Linked DNA regions of Homo sapiens: region 2 is linked to region 1. Evidence: fine-mapped expression QTL. A gene starts in region 1. The other region holds a variant in brackets. All regions are shown on one strand. Distances are between the middles of the regions.

Region 1 (12,067 bases):
TTACAAAAAAAAAAGATTCTGGAAACTCAGTTCACTGCACATCTAAAATATCTTTAGATTACACACCACAGACCTTTTCAACCAGGAGGAATATTTTCAAATAGATGTGTGTCCACTAAATACAGGCAGAAATTTCTCATATGATCAATGGGAAGAATTCAGATGTGGAAGAGTTAACGTGCTTAAGGAAAGGTCAAATTATAAGGGAGAATTTTATGGCTCTTCCTGGAAACATTAATAGCCTCAGTTTGCATTTGTGCTAATGGAGTATTTGAATTTTAACAAGAAAGGCATGTTGAGATTTCGCAGATCTTTTTAGTGCAGAAATGATAAATGGGTTCTTTTTGTTTCACAGAGAGCTTGACAGGTTGAGAGGTCTGAATTCATTAGAATATTTTACTTCAATGTATACACTATATACTAGTCTAGTGCAAAAAAATCGAGTTCCTGTCTGAGCTGCTTAATTGGTATTGTTGACTGAATTCTCCTTGTTCCAGGTCTGAGCTCTACTTTGTCTTCTACCCTGTCAAGCTGGGTCAATAAGTTAATAATGAGACATATGCATTTAAATTAAATTCATACAATTTTTCTGTCTTTGTTCTAAGTAATGTCTAAATTGGTACATTATTTGAATGACTTCATCCAGGGTTATCTGCAGACTTGCTCTTACATTGTTACTTGCCATTTTCCCTTGGCTTCAGTTAACTTGTCATGGCACACACAATTAAATGTTTGCTTTATATTTTCATACATATTTTATTTTTGACATATTTGTAATTTAGCAATAGAAAAAGTACTAAATGATAAATCCACTTAGTAATTTCTAAATTATACTAGTAAACGGCTGATAAAAATATTTCTCATTTTTACACTCCCAATGAAACTAAAAATGTAGGGTTCTTTTTTCAAGAGAGCAATTTCCACCCAAATTGTTTCTTAGCAATGCACAACCACTACTACCACTTATAAAATAAAGGTTATGTTGGATTTGCCAGCTATTTTAGTTGGAAAGGAAAATTTTGGAATCAGGCCACTTTCCATACCAATTTTAGAAATAAAATAATTTGTAATTACTTTGTATCTCCTGCTGGATAATATTGGTAAAGGCAAAGAGTAGTTGTTAATGAAGGTTCATATTGCATTTAGTAGGTTTATGTAGTTCCCCTTTGTGCCTAACAAGGAGCCAACAGTGAGCCCTCTAAAGTTTACAGGACAGAAAAATATCTCTTTGGCCCTTCCCATATTCTCCCCTCTCTGAATCTGGCTGGAGGGCATCCTGGGGTGTTGGTGAAGAGGTTCTAAAGAGGCTTTCAGAAGCAAGTCATCCTGGTCTCTGTTGGGGAGCAGGGAAGCCCTCTTTCTAATTTTCACCCCAATATACACCAAGTCAAGCTCTTCCTGGAGGCTTTGTTTCCCCAGCATTCTAAGACTGTACCCCTTCTGGGCTTACCCAGGTGGGGGCAGAATAACTCCAGGCAGTTGGAGGCAGTGAACCCCATTCTTTCAATGTCTGGAGCCAAAAGGCATCCGTCATCTCTGAGAACAATCTGGGCCTGCTCTGTGGCTATTGCCCAGCCCTGAAAGTGAGCTCCTTGGGACCAGGGAGCAACAAAAGATCTTTCCTTCTCAGTTCTCTGACCCCAGGTGGTAGCAGTGCACACAAGGGAGGCTGACATGCACATGATATACACAGATGAGAAAAGGAGAAAAGAATAGGTTATGGGGCAGGGAGGCAGGGAGGGGTCATTAAAGAACAAGTCAGGGTGAAAAATGAGGAGAAGTCAGGTACTCTTGGTGTGTACAGGCTAGATTGTTCCAAGTTTTCCAATCATGTAAGCATTTTGCAGGGTTGTTTAATGAAACCAACAATTTAAAAAAGCACCTCCCATTTAAAAGCTAAAATTCATATTTCTAAAGGTGACAGTGGATTGAAGAAAGCAAAATGAAATGACCATGCATTGTATGTTGATGGCACATGGGTTCTATCTGACAGTTATTTGGGCCTTTGGCAAGTTGATTTTCCTTTATGGGCTTTAGTTGCTCCCTCTGAAAAACAGGCTTTTGGATATTTTTTCCAAGTACCTAAATCATTAACCTAGAATCATAAGATTATATTTGTAAAACTATGCTAAAAAGTGGTCTGAAATCAGATTGAAATCATAAACTAAATAAATGAACTAAAGGAAATGCTACATTTAGGAATGCTTTATTTCTCAGAGGAAAAAATTCTTATTTTTTCCCTTGAACTCATCTTTAATTTGCTTTTTTTCTTTTTTTAAAGCCAGCAACTTGATGTTCATAACATATGTATGTAATGACGATAATATCTTACATACAGAGCTCATAGTTTCAAAGCATTGATAATAAATAATTTAGGTCTGAGATAACATCTTACAACACAAGCAAATGAGAAGTGACATAATTATTTGCTTGTCTAAAAAGTTATAACTTATTTTTTTAAAGTAAGCCCTTAGAGAAGGTGAACAATTTAATGACCTTAAATTTGGGGACTGCCTTGTGTTTCAGCATGGATCACAGAGCTGTCGTAGATAATACCAATTAAGCAGTGCAAGCAGAAATCCATCTGTCTTCGACTTTGAAAAGTATAGGCAAATATAGTAAATTTAAGACTCTCTAACATTTAATTCTCACCACATATGGTATTGGTTTCTTATTTCCCCTGTTAAAAGAAAAGGAAAACTAAACCCCAAATCTTTCCTGGGTTTTAAATTCTCTTACCATCTTAGACTGAAGGACATTCAGTTAAGTGACATCAGAATGTAACAATGTAATCAGCTAAACTTTTATCTAAAAATGCAGAGCAGTAGATGTTACATTCATCTATCTTTTCACCAACAAATCTTGCTGATTCCCAGTGTTAACTAAAGGAAAAGTTATAATCTAACGGTAATTGAAAACATCCAACAGACACTTAATATTCTTTATATGTTTTAGTTCCTTAAAAAAAAAATGAAACAATGAAAACGTTCACAAGGCTCTAGAATTCAGTTTGCAAGACACGGATGTATGTCCTCTATGTATTAAAATAAAACCAAGAAGCAGGGTTTTGCTGAAAATGAGAACCACTAGCTAAATCCATGCTGGGGGCTAATTAGGGAGGAGAAAAAGGAGGTGCCAAAGAGTAGTAGTTGGTGGTAGCGAAAACGATTTGGAATAAAGTCCTGCATAACTAAATAAATGAAGCTAGCCTAGTCCGAGGAAACACTATTGTTCCAAACTCTGGAGGAGACATGTCCAAAGCTTTCATTATGCTTTCCGAATATAGTTGAGAAAGCAAGAGGGACCATCTCTCTTCCCTGGTTTCAAGAGGCATTTACGAAGCATCCACATTGGGACGTTCCAGGCCTGTTGATTTACTGCATTACCACCATGTCTCTACAGATTTATAGATTATTTTCTAGGCTTCCCAGAGAGCCCTCAGTAATCGGATGGCAAGAATCCAAGTCGCCAGGGTCTCCAAACCCAGAATCTCAGTTAAGGCAGGAGGGGAAATAGGAAGAAAGAGTAACAGATGCGGAACTGCCTTCCCAGCCTGCAACACACAATCATCAGAGCTGGCCCCCCTGGAGCAGCTCCATCTTGCTTCACACAACAAGGCCCAAAGGCACCAAGCAACAACAGCAGTGGCCTCTGGAGGAGGCCCAGCTGAGACCTGGCGGCTGAAGCAGCAGCTTGTCGTGCACAGGAAAACAGGACCAGCCTGCTCTGTTGCTAAGTCATCTCAGACTGTCTGAAAAGCTATGGGAGCAGGATTTTCACTTAGCGCTGGAAGGGCCTGCATCTTGAGCTGCAGCCAAGACCCCAGAACCCAGGAGAGCCATCTTCAGAGGAAAAGCAGCATCTGCTACGGTGTGTAAAGAAACGGCTCTGCTCACTCACTTGGTTGATTCTTAATGGGATCAATACAGTCATTTCGGAGTTCCATGCAAAAACCTGACCAAATTAGGGAATTAAAAAATCAGGAAGCCATGATGTCTATTGCAAAGGGAACACAAGGGGGCTTCTGGGGTTCCAGTAATGTCTGTTTCTTGATCTGGGTAACCCAGGCGTGTCCGTTTTGTGAAAATTCGTTGAGCTGCTCATCTTTGATTTGTGCCCTTTCCTCTCTATATAATACTTCAACCGAATTTTTTAAAAAATTAATGTCAAGAAGACAAATCTGAATTTTGTCACTAAGTGCTAGTAGTGTAAAAACGAGTAAAGGCAGGGAGCCCTTCTTCATAGCAGTACGTGGATGCGTCTGTTTTCTCCATAAATAGATGCAGCTTGTATAAACCCTCTGAGGAATAGGGCGCTGAAAGGATGATCAGATGAGTAACAAAGCAGGAAGATAATTACGATCCGAAGGTGATTGCTGAACCATCTCCCAGCATGGGGCGCTGCCCACAAGTGGATGGCCATACAAAGGCAAGCCCTGAAAACTGTTGTACTGAAACCTTCCTCCCATCATAGGATGTTAGCCAACCCTGCACTAACATCATGACAGGGTCAGAAAACGAGTGACGCTGCAGTACTGGTACTTCTGTCACTTATGAGTGCTGTGACCTTGAGCCGGTTCTCTTACCCTTCCTGCCTCTCTGGGCCCCCAGCTCTAAAACGGGGTTGATGATCCCTCTCCTAGCACCACCACATCGAATGGTTATGAAGATTTTGTAGATAGAAAAGCACCTCCTAATATATTCCTATTTCCCAGAAATGCTACTTACAAATAATTTTTTAAAGAAAAAAATCCAAAGTCATTGATTCCCACAATAGCCACACCCAAAGTCAGTATGTGTAAAATTTTTCCAGGAGAAAATTGTGCAAATAAACTAAATTAGAACAGATTAGACCAAAGGCCTATATAGTCTGAAAATGAAGGGTTATTGAGATGCTCAAATAAGACATTTCACTACTGAAATATCTCTTGTTCTTGAATTTTTTGGAATAAAATACTATGACTTTCTGCTCACATTTTTTTTCTTTTTTTTTTTTAAGCTAAAAGGGAAAATCAAGTGCTTTAAAGTTAAACAAAAGAACCAGGTCTGCAACTCCAGTCCCCACCCTGCAGCCTTTTGTTCTGGGGACAAGTGGCCGTTTCCAACTGCAGAGGCAGATGACAAGCATTTATTTTTTCATCTAAAACAAGGTTTTTCTTTCGTCTTTTATTGGGGAGGGGGAGTGGGGAACGAGGGCTGCGTGAACGCCCTTTGTCCGCCTCGGGCTGCCGTAGAGACCGCAGTGCGGACTGCACCACGCCCACCAACCGGTGTCTCCCGGAGAAACGCTTCAGCACCACCCCAGGAGAATAGAGCGCGGGCTGGGGCTGCGGAGGGACCCGGCGACCTCTGTCAGGAGCGAGGGGAGGGCCGGGACGCCAGGGATAAAGGGAAAGGCAGAGACCAGAGCTGCCCACCCAGGGACTCCCAGGGCAACAAAGCCAGGCAAACTGAGAGGTGGGGGCGCGCGGCCCCCGCCAGCCCGAGGCCCGGGCGGAGCGCAAGCCCAGCCAGCCGTGCCCGACGGGGGCGCCGCAGTGTGGGGGGGCAGGTGTGGCGGGCGGTCCGGAGGCACTGCGGCAGCTCGGGTGGGGCTGGGGGCGGTCTCTCTGTGCGCCCGAGGCTGTGCCCGCCGGACCCTCACGGCCCCGCCCAGGGTCCCCGGCGTACCGCTATTCGGCCTCCGCAGAGCGCGCCACTGGTGCGAGCACCGGGCGAGGAGCTGACCCTACCCGCTGACGTCTCCCTCACCGACCCCCTTCAAGCTACCACTCCCGAGGCTGGGACTTCTAAAAGCAGCAGCCCCACCCCGCAACTTGGGGTCCCATTGTCCTTTCTGAGAGCTGCAGCCAAGGCCCCAAGGGCGGTAGCGAGGCGGGCTCTGTCTGGTGGCGAAGCGCAGGCGGTTCTGCATCCCAGCATCTCCCCGGGGAGGGGGGGGCGGGGGGAGCGGGCGTGGCCCTAGGACTAGCCTAGTCATTCTGAGGAAAGAAAGGATCGGGAGGTTTGAAATCAGAAAAGGCGTTTCTCAGGGGCTGAGGTAGCCGTGGTGAGGATGAATCCCACGCGGGCCCTGGCACATGGGCTTCGGCCCCAGGTCTGCGGTGGTGGGGGTCCCAGCCTTTTCCTGAGGCCAGAAGAGGACTGAAAGGAGTGGTTGCATCAGGTCTCCCCCACCCTTCTGCCTCCTGCGGTTGCGGCTTTATTGTGGCCTCTGCTCCCCTGACACCTGCATTTCACTTAGCGGGAGAGGCGGTGGCCAACTCAGCACAGGCTGCGGACTCAGCGTGGTGACAGATCCCTCAAGGTTATTGGAGACTCTCCCTCTGGGTCTCATATCTAATAATTCGGATTATTCTTAATTAGCCCAGAAAGGGTCTGGACCAAGTATGAGAGGTGACGAGGAGAGGCATGGGTGCGGGGCGCGCGGGAGGAGCGCAGTGACCGTCGCGCCCTGGGTGGGGTCGTGTTTGCGCGTCTCCCAGCGCGCGTCTCTGGGGGCGCGGGGCCACTTACCGAGCTCGATGTTGCCGATGGCACGCCGCAGGTGCTCCTCGGTCACGATCTCGCCGACGACCACCAGCAAGTAGAACTTGCTGTCAAGGAAGCGGTGCGACAGGCTAGGCGAGGTGGACGCCGCCGGGTTGGCGATGCTGCCGGACGGCTCCGGCTCGGTGGCTTCCACCACCACGGTCGCCATCCTGCCGGCTGCTGTGCCTCGGCGAAGTGTCTCGCTCCGGCCGCTCCTCTCCACTGCGGCAGGAGAAAGGATTATCTCCGAAGGTACTGTCTCCGCTCCGCCCCCTGCGTCCCCCCTCCTCTGGCGCCGCGCGCCGCCTCCCCCTCCGCCCTCTCCCAGCGCCGCGGAGAGTGCGCGGCGGAGAGGAGCGGGGAGTGAGAGAGGGCGGGGAGGCGGCGCCGCTTTTATATGGAGACTAGGCAGGGAGCCGGGAGGAGGAGGAAGAGGAGGAGGAAAGGACCACCCGGCACATCCTCACGCGGTGGCTGCCTCCGCTCTTCCAGCCGTTGGCCCGGGGCTGATGTCATCTGCAGCAAATCATCTCGCCCGCGGCCCGGAAGCTGGAGGGACGAGGTGTGCGGACAATGGTCGGGGCAGGGCCGCGAGCCAAGGGGCTGGGGCGCCCGCTGAGCTCCTGCTGCAGCCGTGAAGGGGGAAGACGCTCTCAACCTACACCACCCACCACGTACACACCCACTGCCCACTCCTCACCCTCACCCTGTCTGTGCATGGGAATGGGATGAGTTTCCATTTTCGGAGTGGGGGTCTTTTCTCTTGTTGGAGTTGCACTAGTCAGGCCTCTGCCTTGTGTGCTGTGTATGATGTAGCCAGGTTCTCAGGAACTGGGATAGCCACAGTGGGCAGATGCGGGGCTGTGGGTACCCCGCCTAGGAAGACGGAACCTGTCTTTTCTTTGACCTTGTGGCTTTAAGAAGACGAATTTACTGATATTTACCAATATCAATATTTACCACCTTCACTTAAAGAATACATCAAAAATGCAAAACTTAAGCCTACTATTGTTCAGGCCTTGGATTCTACTCTGGCAGGGCCAAGGATGAAAAAGTACTGGCTTTGTGGTGCTCATGGGAAATGAGAGAAATGCAGATGTATTATATTAGATACCAATTTCTTTCCTTAATGTGCTGAACAGATAGTATCAGTAATAACAAAGAATAAAGAGAAGATACTGTCTCTACTCAGCAGGGTTACAGTGACTATAATGTACTTTTCAGTTCCTTGGGGAACACACAAGCAAAATTACCTCGTGACAATGATGTCTTTTAAAATACCTGTAGCATTGGGAATTTTTATTGCCTTTGTTTGTGTTTAGAAGAACTAAAAAATGTGTTTTTTGTTTTTGTTTTTTTGTTTTTTTTTTTAAGGCAGCCTATTTACAACCGTTTCTCACAAACATACTGAATATAGCTTCTGTCCCAGAAAAGGGGAGGAGGGTGAGGAAAGAGCAAAATGTGCAAACATGGTATCATAGAAGACTGGGGAATTCGAGCTTTAAGGAAGAGGAATAGATGGAAATTAGTCAACATAGCTTTAATACTAGAATGCCTGTTAGTAAAATATAGATGATAGATAGATAGATAGATAGATAGATAGATAGATAGATAGATAATCACCTAGATATTCTTAAGATTTCCAAAATAACCCAGTGTCTTAGGTGTTAGCTGCCATGACTTATTGGTCATGTACTCTTTGCTCTTATATCTTTCCTGACACCCTGGCATGGGAGACATGCTGGGCAGCCAAGGGCTGGGGGGTTCCATCCAACATGTCAATCTGATCAATGCAGAATGAAAATACCGTCTGGCCCGCAGTATTTGGGATCTGTGACAGGATCACTAGAGAGTTGCATTCACCAGTAATTAGATGAAGTGTTTCCAACTAGCTGCATTCACCAGTAACTAGATGAAGTGTTTCCAGATAATATTTTGGTTAAGATATTCAATTGCTGTTCAAGAAGTAAGGCCAGCACCAAAGCCCATAACTGGGGTGAGGGGCAGGAAATATGGTGAAGAGCACTGTTTTCTAAAGGTCATCCGTTGGATTCCAGCCTCATCTAGTTTGTGTTTGGTTTTCCTTTCTTTGAACCATTGTTACTTTTATGTATGTAATAGTTTTCTTTTATGCAGTTTATTTCTTTTACTTAAATTTATTTTTAAATGCAATTCTATGTTGCTGTATAAATGGAAACACTAATATCACTTATTAATAGAAAGTATCCCTAAAAATATACACAATGAAGATAAGATGTGATCAAATTCCTGCTACATACTGTTATGATTTGCTCAAGACTCTGAGTCCAAGGCTCTCCTTTCTTGGTTGAAAACAGAGATTGGCCAAGTGTTAGAGAGGTATTAAAGAGATACTAACACCTAACTGAGTTGTTCTCCATGTTGCAACAGAAGATTGGATGAAAATTATAACAGAGCGCTTTCTTACTGTGTGTGTCTGTGCAATTAAACACCATGACCGTGACCACCTAAGTCATCACCCACACTTTGAAAAATAGAGGCATAATGGGAGAACACAGACTAGGGATGCAGAATACTACTTTACAGCTCGGTAACTTTGGCAAGTGACTTACTCTTTTTGATCTTCCATCTCCTTATTTAATGAGAAGAAGAACATCTTTATAACTGTTAAAGTAACTGTAAGAAAGAAGGAAATGATAGAATGTGTAAGCACCTAATACAGTGGCTGGGCATAGTAAGCAATCAAGGGATGGTTGATTCATTGACCTGTTTTCTCCCAGTTACTAAGACAATGGAGCAAAAGCAGTCTTATAAAATGTGCAAGTGATACTGCTACAACACCTCTGAAACAAGAACAGAATATTACATTATTATACTTCAATACTAGAAAAGTAGCCCCTTCCCCTCTTCATCCCAAGAAAATGTATACAGTTCTAAGGAGGAAAAAGGGGGAAAACTAACATATAAGAGCACCAATATTGCCAGCTGCTCAACTGACATCACCTGGATATACCAAAGGCACCAGAATCTTGACATGCTCCAAACCCAAATCATCTTTTACCTCTAAACGGGATCCTCTCTCATTCTTGTTATTTCAATGAACCATAACACCATGTATCCCATGATGCAAACCAAAACCTCACAAATATTTTGGACTCTCCCCTGACCCTTAGCCTCGTGTGCAATCCAGCATGGAGTCTGGTCAATTTCACCTTCAGTATCTCTTCAATCCATCCACGTTTCTCCATTATCACCAACCTAGTCCAAGCTAGCATCATTGTGATAGGTACTAGTGTACCGGTTAGAAAATGGGTTCTGGAGTCAGACTGCCTGGTTTTGAATCCTAATACCATAATTTATTAGCTGTGTGGCCTTAAGCAAGGTGCTTAACCACTCTATACCTTGGTTTTCTCATTTGTATAGTAGAGATGAGTACCGACCTCATGGACAGGAGGACAGTTTAAATATGCAAATTACTTAAAACAGTGCCTTGCATATAATGAGCACTTAATAGGGATTAGTTGTTTTTGGTATGGGGTTAGTTGTTTTTGGCTGTTATTGTTTAACATTTTACTATGGAAAATTTCAAACAGAGAGAGTATAATGTAAGTAACACCCACATACCCATTATCCCCAATCCATAGATTTTTATAGTTTGCTTCTTTAAATCAAGATTGAAATAATGTCTATATATTTCAACTGATTCATCAGTCTTAAACTCCTTTGATCTATGTAATCCTGCTATTTTTTTCCTTGTAATTTTCTGTTGAATAGTGGCAACATTGTTCAGCAGAGTTTCACAAAGCATAAATTTTGCCGATTGCATCACCTGTTGTGTTATTTAACATGTTCTTCTATCTTCTGAATTTTCTGAGAGAACTAAAGTCTTGATCAGATGCAGATTTGATATTTTTTACATGTATACTTCATAGGTAATATTGTGATCTTCCATCAGAAGGCACCTAAAGACTAGTTAACCCTCATTCTGTGATTTTAGCAGCTATTGATGATCATTACCTAGATCCATTATTTCACTATGGATTGAAAAAATGATAATATTCTAATTTTGTTATTATTTATTTGACAGCTAGAAGACTTCTGTTAGGAGAAGCGTTATCCTGTCAGTTGATTACCCTGAGGTACGGTATGTACAGGAAAAGAAGGATAAACAAATGATTTTTTCTCTTTATTTACTGATTTTCAAAATAATTAATTTATTCCAAATCATTCTCTAAAGGTGACTAATTTTTTGTATCATTACAAATATAACTTACATTATTCATATTGATGCTTTCATTTTTTCATCTTTGGCCAGTAGTATGGTAAGGTATCCCTAGCTTACCTTGCACATATCTGGCCTCAGAACCTGGAATGAGCCGTTTCTCTATGGAATCCAAGTTCCTTACGTGGGTAATGGTATTTGGAGACCCCTGTATACCAGGTGCTACTACTATTTTGATCATTGTTTCTAGATATTTTCAGTGGACAGAAATATGAAATAAATTGTTTTTCAAGTATGAGTTCATACTTATACCTCTAACTCAGAATCGGGACTACAGGGATTTTGCCTAACGTTTTATCTTGCATCTGTATTTCCTTTGTCCTATGCCTAGAATTCCAGTTTTCAAAGACTCCAAGGTGACAGAATTAGAACAGCAGATAGTTTCTCATTTTTCTTGTTCCACAATATATACAAATTACCCTCATGGTAGTTTTAGATACGAATGCAACACTTTTGCCAACAATGTGATTACTAAAAACATTTTAAGGTATATAGTTTTTTTGTTTGTTTGTTTGTTTGGTTGGTTGGTTGTTTTTTTTGTTTTTGTTTTTTTTTTTTTTTTTTTTTTGAGACCGATTCTCACTCTTGTTGCCCAGGCTGGAGTGCAGTGGCGCCATCTCGGCTCACTGCAACCTCTGCCTCCCAGGTTCAAGCGATTCTCCTGCCTCAGCCTTCTCAGTAGCTGGGATTACAGGCACCCACCACCATGCCTGGCTAATTTTTGTACCTTTAGTAGAGATGGGGTTTCGCCATGTTGGCCAGGCTGGTCTCAAACTCCTGACCTCAGATGATCTGCCCGCCTCAGCCTACCAAAGTGCTGGGATTATAGGTGTGAGCCACCGTGCCCAGCCTAAGCTATATAGTTTTAAAGTGTAATTAATTCTGTTATATATGATCGTGCCACTAACTCAGTGCATAGTTATGTTCATTTGTTTCATTTTGTTTTCAGTTTTTATGAATTGATTTTTACAATTTAATTTTGCTTTATAGTAATGTAAAATATTTACATGGTTCCAAGGTGAAATCTACAAAACAATTTGTATTTGGAGAACTTTAGCCTCTATCCCTGTCCCCTCCAGCTTTCTCCCTGTCTCTTCCTGTGAGTAACAATTTTTTACCTTGATTTAGCCTTTCACTTTAAAAATGCAAGTAGCAGCATATACATACAATTTTCTCCACTTTGCTTATTTCATCAAACACTATATCCCGGCTATAACGCTACAATAATATATGTTAATATTCCTCATTTTTATTTATAGCTGCATAGTAACCCATT
Region 2 (12,067 bases), 260 kb before region 1:
TTGGGTGATGGGAGAAGAGAAAGAAGTCTGCTGTTTGCAACTGTGCCATCGTCATCTGTGCTTTGTGCAGCTCTTTCAGGACAACTATCAGGTGGATGACACTACGATTCTTACAGTTGCCATGCATTTCGTTCTCTGAGAAGTCAAGCACATTCTTTTTTTTTTTGATGCAATAATGCTGCAACTTATTATTTTTATTGCAGAAGCAACTAAGCAATATTTTTCCTGTGAACAGCACTCTCATGTATATGTAAACCACAGTCTGCAGTTCCTCAAAAAAAAAAAAAAAGAAAGGGATGCTGAATATTCTTACTCTCAACTGTATGCATATAGGGTACAATTCAATGTAGAAGTCACCACTGCCTTCCTATGCATACCCTGGGCCCCCATCCTCACCATCATCGGCATAGGTGAGCAACTAGATATTTTGGCCAAGCAAAAAAATCTCCCGGAAGTATTGATCATTTCATATATGCGTGAATCTGCTGATACTGTTCATATGAATAATACACACAGAATATTGATCTCCCAAGAGTCATTTTCATTTCATTTTGCTCTTTTCCTTCTCTTGCCTGAAACCTTGGAAAGCTAACCCCACACACTCCTTTATGCTCTTCCTTATCACTTCCCTGAGCCCCTTTCATCTGCACAAGAGCATCAGACAAAATATTGTGACCTGTGCACAACCTCAAAGTGTACTGGCACATCTGTTCCAGTATCTATTGATTTCTAAAGTCATTTTCTCTCTTCTCATCAAGAAAACCCAGACAATTCTGGGGTGGAATTTGGTAATCCTGGATTGAGAAGTGAAGATCACCTTGTTCTATGGAAAGTGAAAGAGGAATTGAAGCAAGGAAGCTAAAGTTCTTCATGTAGTTCCAGAATATCGACTTTCTCCTCTCCTCTTGAGCTTTTCAATTGCCACCAATAGTCAAGGCCTTGTTGCCTGGTGCATTTTTTAAATTATGGCTTTCAATATTTTATTGTGGTTAGAAGAAGATGGGCAAGTATTAAAAGCCCATCGTATTCTTCAAAGACTACTTGTTTTGCTCTTTAATTAACATACAGTAAAATCATTTTCTTGGTGTACAGTTTTATGAGTTTTAATGCATGTATGGATTCATGTAACCACCACCACAATCAGGATATGTAACCGTTTCATCATCCCCCAAAACTCTCATGCTGCCTTCTGTAGTCACACTCTCCCCCACCGAAAACTTGTAACCACTGATCTGTTCTCTTTATTGTTTTGCCTTTTCCAGAAAGTCATGTAAATGACACTTGCCAATTATGTATTGGCATCAGCCAGTATGCAGCTTCTGAGACAGCCTTATTTTCCTCAGTATCACACCTTTCAGATTCATCCATGTTGTTGCATTTATCAATAACTAGTTCTTTTTTATTGATTACTAGGATTCAATTGTTCTCGTGCATATTGAACTCAGCAGCGGTTTTCAGTATAATACAGACCCCATGGGTCCCAGGAAGAAAGGCCGGTTGGGTAACCAAGCGAGGAAGTAGCTAAGGTTCATTCTTCAAATTCTACGGTTACTTGTCATAATCATGTTGGGTGATCATCTGGAGATGAAGAGGCACAGCGGTTTTTATTCAAGAGCAAAAGAAGCCAAGAGAAAGCCGAGGCCCAATCACCTCAGGCTTTCAATAGACCCCTTCCCCCGTGCGGCATCTGCGAGTTCTTTTTTTATTTTGTTTTGTTTTGTTTTGTTTTGTTTTTGAGACGGAGTCTCGGACTGTCGCCCAGGATGGAGTGCAATGGTGTGATCTCAGCTCACTGCAACCTCCGCTTCCCAGGTTCAAGCGATTCCCCTGCCTCAGCCTCCTGAGTAGCCGGGATTACAGGTGCACACCACCACACCCAGCTAATTTTTTGTATTTTTAGTAGAGATGGGGTGTCACTATGTTGGCCAGACTGGTTGATCACTAGTATCTTGACCTCGTGATCCGCCCGCCTTGGCCTCCCAAAGTGCTGGGATTACAGGTGTGAGCCACCGTGCCCGGCCGCGAGTTCTTAACCTACTTCACTTTCAAGCTGCCCAGTGTCTTCCTGACTCAGGCTAATGTAGCAGTTCTCCCCAGCGGGTGATATTGCCCCTCATAAAGCATTTGACAAAGTTGGGAGACATTTTTGGTTGTCAGGACTTGGGGACTGCTACTGGCATCCAGTGGATATTGAGTACCTAAGTGCCAGGCAATATTCTGTGCTGGGGATACAGGTGTGGACACAAAAGGCAGAGTCCCTGCCCTCATGGGGCTTACAGTCTAGAGCAGGGGTTGGCAAACTTTTTCTGTAAAAGGCCAGATGATCAATATTTTCAGCTTTGTGGACCATGTAGTCTCTATTGCAGTGTGAAGGCCAACAAAGACAATGTGCAAACAGATGATAGTGTCCGTGCCCCAATGCAACTTGACTTACAAAAGTAGGCAGCTTGTATGACGTAGCCCTCAGGCTGTAATTTGCCAACTCTTCTTCTAGCGAGAAGACAAATCATTGACAAACAAATATAAAATTCAAGTAGTAAGTGCTATATATTTTTTTTAAAGGCAAGATAAGGGATAGAGAGGAGGAAAGGTGCAATTTAGACTAGGTGGTCAGGGAAGGCCTCTCTGAGGAGGTGACATTTGATCAGGCACCTGAATGACATGCAGGACTGAGCCAGAGGGAACAGCAAGTGCAAACGCCCTGAAGCAGGAATGTGCTGGTGTCTTCAAGGAACAGAAAGAAGACCAGGGTGCAGGAATAACGCACGGAAGGTGTGGGGAAGCTGAGGTTAGAGAGGTCAGTGGGCTCAGGGCATGTTAGCACTTGGACTTCGGAGTTGATGCTCAGGGTGCTGAGAAGCCTTGGGGGCTTTGGGAGAGGGATGCCATGTTCCACATTCTCACCATCAAGCAGAAGAGTTCAGGTGACTTTTCATGGCCTCCATTCATCCACATGTGGGTTTGGGTGAATTAGTGAAAGGTGCCTCTCCCTGTTGGCAGCAGCAGCCTTGGATCCTGGCCTCCACTCCCCACCTCTGCCACATGCCTGTAGTTGGGGTATGACTTGCACAGCTGTACATTCCAGTCCTTGGTCTTAAGTGCTGCTGAGGTTACTTAAACTTTAAGCAAATGGTATTCTTCAGACTTTCTAGGACTTTAATATATTTGGTATGCAAATTATTGTTATTAGGCAGTGGTTTCTGGGGCTCCAGCTCAGTGTTCCAGGGCAGATTGGAGAACATCTAATCTGAGGGTGCCCTTCCTTTTCCCTTGAAAGGAATCTCGACCCATTCCTGAGACCTTTCACTGCTGGGACCAGCAGTCCCCCTTCTTTGCTTTGAGGTAATGCAAAGTGGTATGAATGAGGGAAACAAAGAGTAAGCAGCAAAGGCATCTCCCTAAGTTATGGAAACTTGCATAAAAGGAACCTTGTGGCAATAGTGAGGCCTTTCATTTCCTATTCTTTATTAAATGACAGGTTGCCAGGAAAGCACTGTCACACATTTGCATGCAGGTTAAATTTCTCAAAATCTGAGCCCCTACAGCGAGTGACAGTGGGAAGTGTGAAAGAAAGGCTCAAGATTCGCTGCTGTGCTGTTGTTATTGTCAATGGGTAAATTTCTTTAGCAACTTGTGGTTCTATTGGAACTGACTGGAACAAATCCAGCCATGAGCTATTTGTTAGTTGGTTTTCTTTTCTATTTATTATTTTGAATGGAAAGCATGATAACCAGGGATAAATAATGAAAGGCATTTTCGTTATCATCATTTAATACCAAACATAGGTGACTACAGAAATCCTAAAATAACTAGATGAGCTCATCATGGACCAACATCTTTCACTTTTCTAATGTGCTTTTGGAGGTTTTGACACCAGGAATGCTGCAGTGCTTTCCAAATAGTGTGGACTTTACCTAGAAGTATTATGAACTGAGTCATAATGAACATCATGGTTCACTCTTTTCCCATGGTTGTCTTAATTAGCTGCACAATTTTCCCTGATCTCACTTGAAACAATCTTCAAATTCTTACCCAGAGGTTTGATTGAGCATTTTCTATTCATTTGTCAATTCTAAGAACTAGTTACTGGGATTAACTTACAAATGAATATTCCTTCCCTAATTGCTGCAGACAAATGCAGTTTGGCTGCTTCAACTTAAAACAATAAAGATGAAAGTAGTAGTATAATATAATTAATTTTGTGGTAGTAAGCATCTTCTAAGCTGTAAGTAGAGGATGAGACATGTAGTTCCAGAGTTGGGCTTTAAACCTACATCTAAAGTTCATTGTTATTAGGTGGTATCTGAATATTAGGCCTGGAAATACTGAATTGGCAAACATTTTTCTGTTTTTAATCTTTCCTCTATGTTTTCCAGGGGAAAAAACTGATATTTGTTAATATTCTCCTTCAAATAAACTGGGAAAGTTAAAATGTACCTTGGGTTGCAGTAAAAGATGGTTGTGTAGTAGGTTGATCTTTCCCATGGCTTACCTTGAGGGACTTTACTCATGTCAAAGGCTGCATAAGATGCTGGGCATTGGGAGACACATTTGGGGAGCAAATGGACAGCTCCAAGTGTCCTTGTCACCTTTCTACAGGATGTAGCCCAAGGGCAGCTGGTGAGGAAAATGATTTTTAGGCTTGTTGCTTGCTTTTCTCAACTTGGCCTACACATCTTCTCCCTTGAAATAAGAGTTTTAGGCTTGGGAGAAAACAGGACTGAAAGCAAACCTCTGGCTTCTCCTAAGTTCCAGTAAAGCAGCCTCTACTCTGAGTCAGTGAGTGAAAGAGTGAGAACACAGGAAGCCAAGCTCTGTCACAAAAGAACCTGAAAAAGGGACCTAAAATATTTTTTTTTCAAAGGGAGAAGCATTAACAAAATGATGGGGAAGACACAAAATAGAAGAACAGAGAAAGAAGAGGAAGTAAAATTCAAGGAGAAAAAAAAATCATAACACATTAGTTTATTTGAAATGTGAACAGACAGCAAAATTGCACATGGCCCATTTAGTCCAGCTTGCTTGCCAACTCTTCTACTCAAAGACAGGGGGACCTATTCCGCCTATCTGTCTCAGAACCTTTAAAATGGGGTCAGGAAATTTGCTACTTGGGCTTAGCAATGTGCTGGTTGTCTTTGTCCCACACTCTGCATCTATCTAGGTGTTTTGCATATAAGAACATTTCAATAGCATTAAATCATCAACAACCTAAAAGTCATGTCTACACCTGCAAAGTGAAATGTGGAATTGAGATAGTTTAGAGAAGAAAAAGGGATTTTTGAAAATAGACCCAAATAGTCCATATGAAAAAAAGATTTATACTTTTGGGCAAGACTCATGGCCCACTGAATTTGATATTTTGACTCTAAGGGTGTATCACAGGCTGTGGAATGAAAGGGGTATAGGAGCCCAGAGCCACTCAATTGGTTCACTGGTTAACCGCCCAGCTCTCCACTTTGTCATGGTGGGTCCTGCAGAAGTGAGCTTCATGCTACTGATTATTTACTTGCAAAGTGGGCGTTGTGCCTGGGTGATACCCTGCCTCCCTATGCAGTGCAGTAGAACACAGCCTAA[C/T]TGTGTTCCTCCCTCCACTTCTAACACCTGAATGAGATAAAAGCCTGCTTAACACAGCATGTAAAGAAAGACTGAGTTCTGGCCACTCAACTCCAGACTCCTAGAGGTGTTTGACCAAATGGCCATCAACCAGGTGTTTTGGGTTTTTTTCATTTGATAAGTGAGGTAAATCACAGACATTATGTAAGGAATATGTACAATAGGATTTTCCCCAAGATTTTTTCTAGTACCTTTATCCCTGAGCTGGTGTGGCCAAACCATACCAACTCTGTGGGCCACATTGTTTAGAGTCATTAACAGTTTGTTTCTTTTACCTCATCAGTTGTTGTACAATGCACAGTTGCACTAGGGTCTCCTCTAGGTACTTTGGGTGGTTTTCAAGAATGTATCTATCGATGCCCATGAAGAAGTCATCTTGAACAAGGGCATCTGTCCTTTCTTCCTCCTGAGCTCTGGTCTCTGTCAGGGATATCTCTCATCAGAATCCCCATCCCAGCCCCAGTATAGTTAGTGCTCTGTGAAGTCTCAATATATATTAAAGTTTCATGATAATGGGAATTTCATCTTTGACCTATTCTTAGAGATGGGCAGTGATAAATACACCGGGAATCCAACATTTCCCTCACTTAAATGGAGAACGCTCCAAGATTTAGTCATTCCTGATGATGGCAGGAAGAGACAGTAAGGTTGACTATCATTTGATGAATCTGGAAGGGTAGAGAGACAATCAAAATAACCAAGATCCTAATTCCTTTTTACTTCTTTCACACACAAATGTGATTTTAGTTAATAAAGGCAAACAGTTAATTGGGGGGATTTTCCTTCTCAATTTGGGAGGAAACCCTTTCCCAAGTGAGACAAATGACCATCCTTTTTCTTTCATAAGAAACTGAGTGTATGTTTTCTCACAAAACATCTAATGTGTGTGTGCATGTGTGCTCACGTGTACACGCACATGGACACATTGCATGATACTTACATTGGTCTACTTTCTGCAGAGGATCAACTTTACTGCTTTCTCTCTTTTAAAAGTATCCTTTCAACACTAAATATTTCTTAACCTGCGTGAAGGCAATATTCTATATACTCCCTAAAGTCTATCTACAGCTACCTTTCCTGTCTAGCCTGCTATGTGGACCTCTGTTCTCTCTGAATTCCAGAAATGCTTTTGAAAACTAGCACCTTTTAAAAATAGTGACTCTGGACGCCCTCTGCCGTCTATTGTAAGTTCTTCAGCTCTGCTACTGACAGCAAAGCAGGAAGTTGGCCAGGGATTATTGAGAATACATGCACACAGCCAGCACTTGGGCAGGCAATACAGAGATAAGGTTAAAAACATGACCTCCAGCATCAGACCTCCTGGGTTCAAATACTGTGCTCTCCCGCTCTCTAGTGTTATATCCACAGGCAAGCAACTAAACGTCTCTGAGCTTCAGTTTCTTTATCTGAGAAATGGCATAATAGTACTTTATGGGGTTTCCCAGGGATCAAATGAGATAAAGTGCTTTGCACAGGACCTGGCAAATGGTAAGTCTTATTATTATTATTATTATTTGAAACATAGTTTCGCTCTTGTCGCCTAGGCTAGAGTGCAATGGCGCAGTCTAGGCTCACTGTAACCTCCGTCTCCCAGGTTCAAGCAATTCTCCCGTCTCAACCTCCTGAGTAGCTGAAATTACAGATGCCCGCCACCACGCCTGGCTAATTTTTTTGTATTTTTAGTAGAGATGGGGTTTCACCATGCTGGCCAGGCTGGTCTAGAACCCCTGACCTCAGGTGATCTGCCTGCCTCGGCCTCCCTAAGTGCTGGGATTACAAACTTGAGCTACCTTGCCCAGCTGGTAAGTCTTATATGTTATCTATTTTTGTCTATAATCTTTGTAATTTTATGAACCCTGGCTTTTTATAAGCCCCGTTTTTGTTGAATTCTGTATCACCTAAGGACCAATGTGTTAAAAATCGATTATGATCTTCTAAATTGGAAATGACATTTTCTCTGCTCTCTATAGCTTTTTTATATAATGACAAGCTTTTTAGGCCAAAGCCTCATGATGCATGCAGCCATCTTGCTACCAGCTATAACCGGAACATACTCCTCACCCTACCTGACATCAACCCAGTAATTTGCAGCTATAAAATGGAAGGTTAACTTAATCCTCTTCAGTCTTCATGGCTACATGAGTCTCCCTGGGATGCGGTAGAATACATCAGCAGATTCTGTTACTATTAGTTACCAGGAATGAGACTTGCACTTGCGGATTCAAAATCAAATTGAGTTGTAGGGCAGTCACTTTGCAGGGGTTATGCCTTCCTTCATGCTGTCAATTGTAACAGATGATGTTGCTGTCTAGGGGTAAGGGCTACTTTGGGGATTGAAAGACAGGGTGATGCTGTGCTCTTCTGGGTGAGCATCTTGGCCTGATTCAGTCAGGAAAAAGGAATCAGGGAAGACAAGGGATTTACAAAGAAAGCATCACTCTACTCTGACAATGCATTTCCAGGCAGGCCCGCAGTTCACAGACCAGTTCACAGACCGTGATGCCTTGCAGGCCATCTCAGAGGCCCCTGGTTCTCTTTCTTCTCCTGATTAAATGAGGCCTTCCTCTCCTATCCCAGAGCAGCCAGCTCTGCAGTGTTTCAGCTGCAGGGCAGTGATTAGCAGGTAAGCATGTGGTTCCCTTTCCCTCTGGGCCTTCTTTCCCCATCCCCATCTTTAATGCCTGTGGTAATGCTGCCTCTGAGGCCCTTGGAAGAAAGTCAGCTGGGCAAGGCAGGCCAAGCGGGGAGGTGAGCAGTTCAGCAGCGCTTTGATCCTCTTTCATTAGCAACTTGAAAGTCACCTGGAACCGTTGTGCCCACCGCCTACTCCCCCAACCCCTCGCCAAATCACTTCTTTCTCAGATTAGCTGTGTGCTTCGAATGTCTGGGGGGAAACGCCCACGGATACATTACTGCAAGATACAGGGGCCCTGGTCCAGTACATGAATGCACTGGCCAACCCAGGACCCCCGCACAGGCAAGTCATTCTACTTGTCTGTGTCTTGGCTCTGTCATGTGTAAAACCGGGACAGAAACAGCAACCAGTTTATGAGAAAACTGTGAAATGCCTAAAGTATATTGTGGCAGACTGTACATATTAACTAAAATCTGCCGTTAATTAATGAAATCACTCTTTCAAAAAATATTAAGACCTCATTAGATGTATAAATAATATGCTACATAAGCACCTTGGGGTCATATAAAACAAATGTAGAATACTCTGTTCTTCAGGAGAGACCGGATATGGAGAAAAAGATCTGTAACAATACAAGGCAGTGTACTTTACATGTTAAAATAAATGACACAGACAACTGGTTTTACAAAACACCAGCAAAAGGTCTTCCTTTATACATGCCACAGGGTGATATGAAGATTACCCTAGACTTAGCACTTATCCCAACTGCAATCATGTGGTCATTTGCCCAGTTATCTTTTTGATGTCTGTTGCTCTTGCAGAATGCAAGCTCCATGGGAACAGAGGACATTTAAAAAATCTTCTTGTTTTGACTCCATGTTATTGAATAAAACATATCTCAATCAGAATACACCAATTTCCATTAATTTTTGAGAACACTTTTTTGAGCTAATGCCATTTAAGCCAATGTAATTCCTTGATTCATTTTCTATGCAATACAGTTGAACCACTTCCTTTTAAAAAATACCATTTCACTTTTATTTTTGTGCAACCATTTCCTTAGAATCAATTTTACCATGATTTGGTTCCTCACGGTTTCTTATGCATATCAAATATTACTGATGATAGCTTTTGCCGCTGTAATCTTTTTTATGGCTAGTTTATCTATGAAGTGTAATTTCTCTGAATCAAATTTATAGGTAGAAATGTTATGAAGGAAATTTGAATTGTGGGTTATTTTAGTCAAGTCTCATGTAGTTTTGCCACAATTGGCCTTAGTTTGTATGGATTTCTTTATGTATATTTGAAAAAATAAATGGATATATTTTTCAATGTCTTTAACCTAATGCCTTGGAACTCTTGATTCAATTAATTCATTGGTGGGCTTGGGGTCAGCAAGAGAGAATAGCAGAGGAAGGGTACTTATTATGTGTAGGGCAGATGGTAGAGACTACAGACCTCAGCAGTGGGTGCTGGCATGACCCTCTAAAAGGCCTGCTGGGCCCAACACTGCATCAGCACATTATTTACTCAGGAGTCCAGAGACAAGGCCAGACTTCCCACTCTTCCCCCTCCTCACAACTGAGACCAGAGGACACAGAGGATGAATCTGAAGCCCACAACTCCTGTCCACATAGACACACAAGACACACAAGCTTTCTGTTATACCAACTATTCTTAAAGTGTGTTGCCCAGACTAGCAAAGGCATCATCTGAGAATGCATTTGTAATGCAAATTCTTGGGCCCTGACTCATATGTATGGAATCAGATATTCTGGGGGTGGGGCCCATCAATCTGTATTTTAACAAGCTCTCCAAGTGATTCTGATGCCTGTTCAGGTTTAAGATGAGAGCCTGTTCAGCTGTCATCTTGGCTATGAAAAGGTAGGAGGAAGATACGCAAAAAGATTGAACATTTACCTCAAAGAAATCAAAGACTAAAATATCCTTTAAGCAAGATCAAGTCTCCCATGACTCCTGTTTTCAGTATAACCAGAGTTCATAAGAAGTTTTAGTTCACTGCAAAGAAACAGAGAAGCCTACATTTTTGCCTACCCAAATTGTAGCAGGTAAATCCTTACCTCCTCATTATAATATCCCAACAATATTCATTATGAGTAGTTAAAAGTTTGTATTTATTTCCTGAATCATCCTCAACAAAACTATCAACAAATATTGCCCAGGATTGTTTTATTTCACAACCAAGTCCATTCTTCAGTAGGAATTTGGCCACTCTGTAATGAGCACCTCCTACAGAAACAAAAAGATCCCTGGGAGTCAACATGGCAGGCTAAAATTTTCTGTGTTGGGACAGAGATCTTGTCTGTCTTTTCCCTGTGGCATGTAGAGTCTTTCGTAGTGCCTTGTCCTTTGTAGATTCTCAAAATAGATATGGTGAATTAATGGAGAATCCTTGAGAATTTAAAGAGCTTGCAAATGCCTCATTGAAAAAGTGACACAAGTTAGACCTTGAATAATAGGCAGAACAGAATAGAGAAAGAGTGGGGACACTTTGGTTGGGAGGAGGAAGGGATACACAGTGGGCTGAGCAAAACTTGGAGTCAGGTCTAAATGTGGAAGGTTGGGACTGGCTGTCTTAGTCTCTTCAGGCTGCTATAACAAAATACCAAAAACTGGGTGGCTTATAAATAACAGAAATATATTTCTCACAGTTCTGAAGGCTGGGAAATCCAAGAACAAGACACCAGCATTTGGTGTCTAGTGAGAGCCCATTTTCTGGTTCATAGACAGCGTCTTTTTGCCATGACCTCGCTTAAAGGAAGGGGTGACCAAATTTCTTTGGGCTTGTTTTATAATGACACAAATCCCATTCATGAGGGCACCACCCTAATTCCTTCCCAAAGGCTACATCATCTAATACCAACACCTTGGGGATTTGGAGTTCAACATATGAGTTTGGGGGGACATTCAGACCCTGCACTGAGTGTATGGTATTAGAGACGAAAAGCTGTCCATGGGGGACCAATATGACCACCAACATTGTTATACAATATAGTTAAATGAGCTGGTGAGTTAAATAAGTACTAATCCTCTGATACATCCCCTACCATGCTAGGCACCCAGCAAACAGAGCAGAAAGGACAGACATGGCACCTGAGTCTAGTGAAGAAAACAGACAGTGACAGGCATATGATAAGCACTTTGATAAATGAGGTACATGGGGCACATGGGGAGTTCACCTAACCAGGTGAGACTAGACCAGAAAGCCTTCTCAGATGAAAAGATGTCTAAGCCAAGACCTGAATGATGAGTAGGAATTAGCCATTCCACAAGAGGGGAAGAGGGGCGTAGAGTAGCAAGAGTTGGAGCTGGATGGACAAATGTGGGCCAGATTAGGAAGGACCTTCTAAACCATGTTGAAGAGCCTGAGCTTTATCCAGAAGCATGTGAGGTCCTCAGGAGGTTTTAAACAGGGGAGAAAACAGACTATCTACTACAGTTTCACAGAATTTATTCTTTGAAATTCCTACCACTGAGATGGGATATATGCTCCCTCCATTTGAATCTGGGGGGGCTTGGGACTTTAGTGGAAGTGATGTTATGAGACTTCTGAGACTAGGTCATAAAATGTAACTGCTTCTGCCTGGTCCTCTTGGGACAGTCACTCCTAGTACCTAGCCACCATGCTGTGGGGAAGCTATGTGTAGACATGTTCCAGCCCCAGCACTAGCTGAGGTCCTAGCATCAACTGCCAGAAATACTAAGGAAGCCTTTGAGATTATGCCAGTCGCGGCCACAATCTGATGATGACTATAACTGCATGAGAACCCGAATAAGAACTGTCTGGCTGAGCCCAGT

Evidence for each region. PIP is the estimated chance that this variant, and not a neighbour inherited with it, causes the effect.
Region 2: its variant is fine-mapped to the expression of MAP1B in minor salivary gland (GTEx, PIP 0.93).

Annotation. Positions count from the first base shown.
Region 1 is chr5:72,102,164-72,114,230 of GRCh38, reverse strand. It overlaps MAP1B (microtubule associated protein 1B), which reads right to left and starts at 6,756. Exons shown (of 7, transcript NM_005909.5): 1 at 6,516-6,756. The coding sequence starts at 6,699. It overlaps LOC105379028 (a long non-coding RNA gene), which reads left to right and starts at 744. Exons shown (of 3, transcript XR_007058813.1): 1 at 744-5,456; 2 at 6,244-6,306; 3 at 10,597-12,067. RefSeq lists enhancers at 5,155-5,449, 5,855-6,837.
Region 2 is chr5:72,361,279-72,373,345 of GRCh38, reverse strand. PTCD2 (pentatricopeptide repeat domain 2) reads right to left here. Exons shown (of 10, transcript NM_024754.5): 10 at 4,951-12,067. It also overlaps the pseudogene RPL10AP8. Among named protein-coding and RNA genes, the nearest start is that of PTCD2, 47 kb to the right of the region's middle. The variant C/T (reference allele first, on the strand shown) is at 5,575.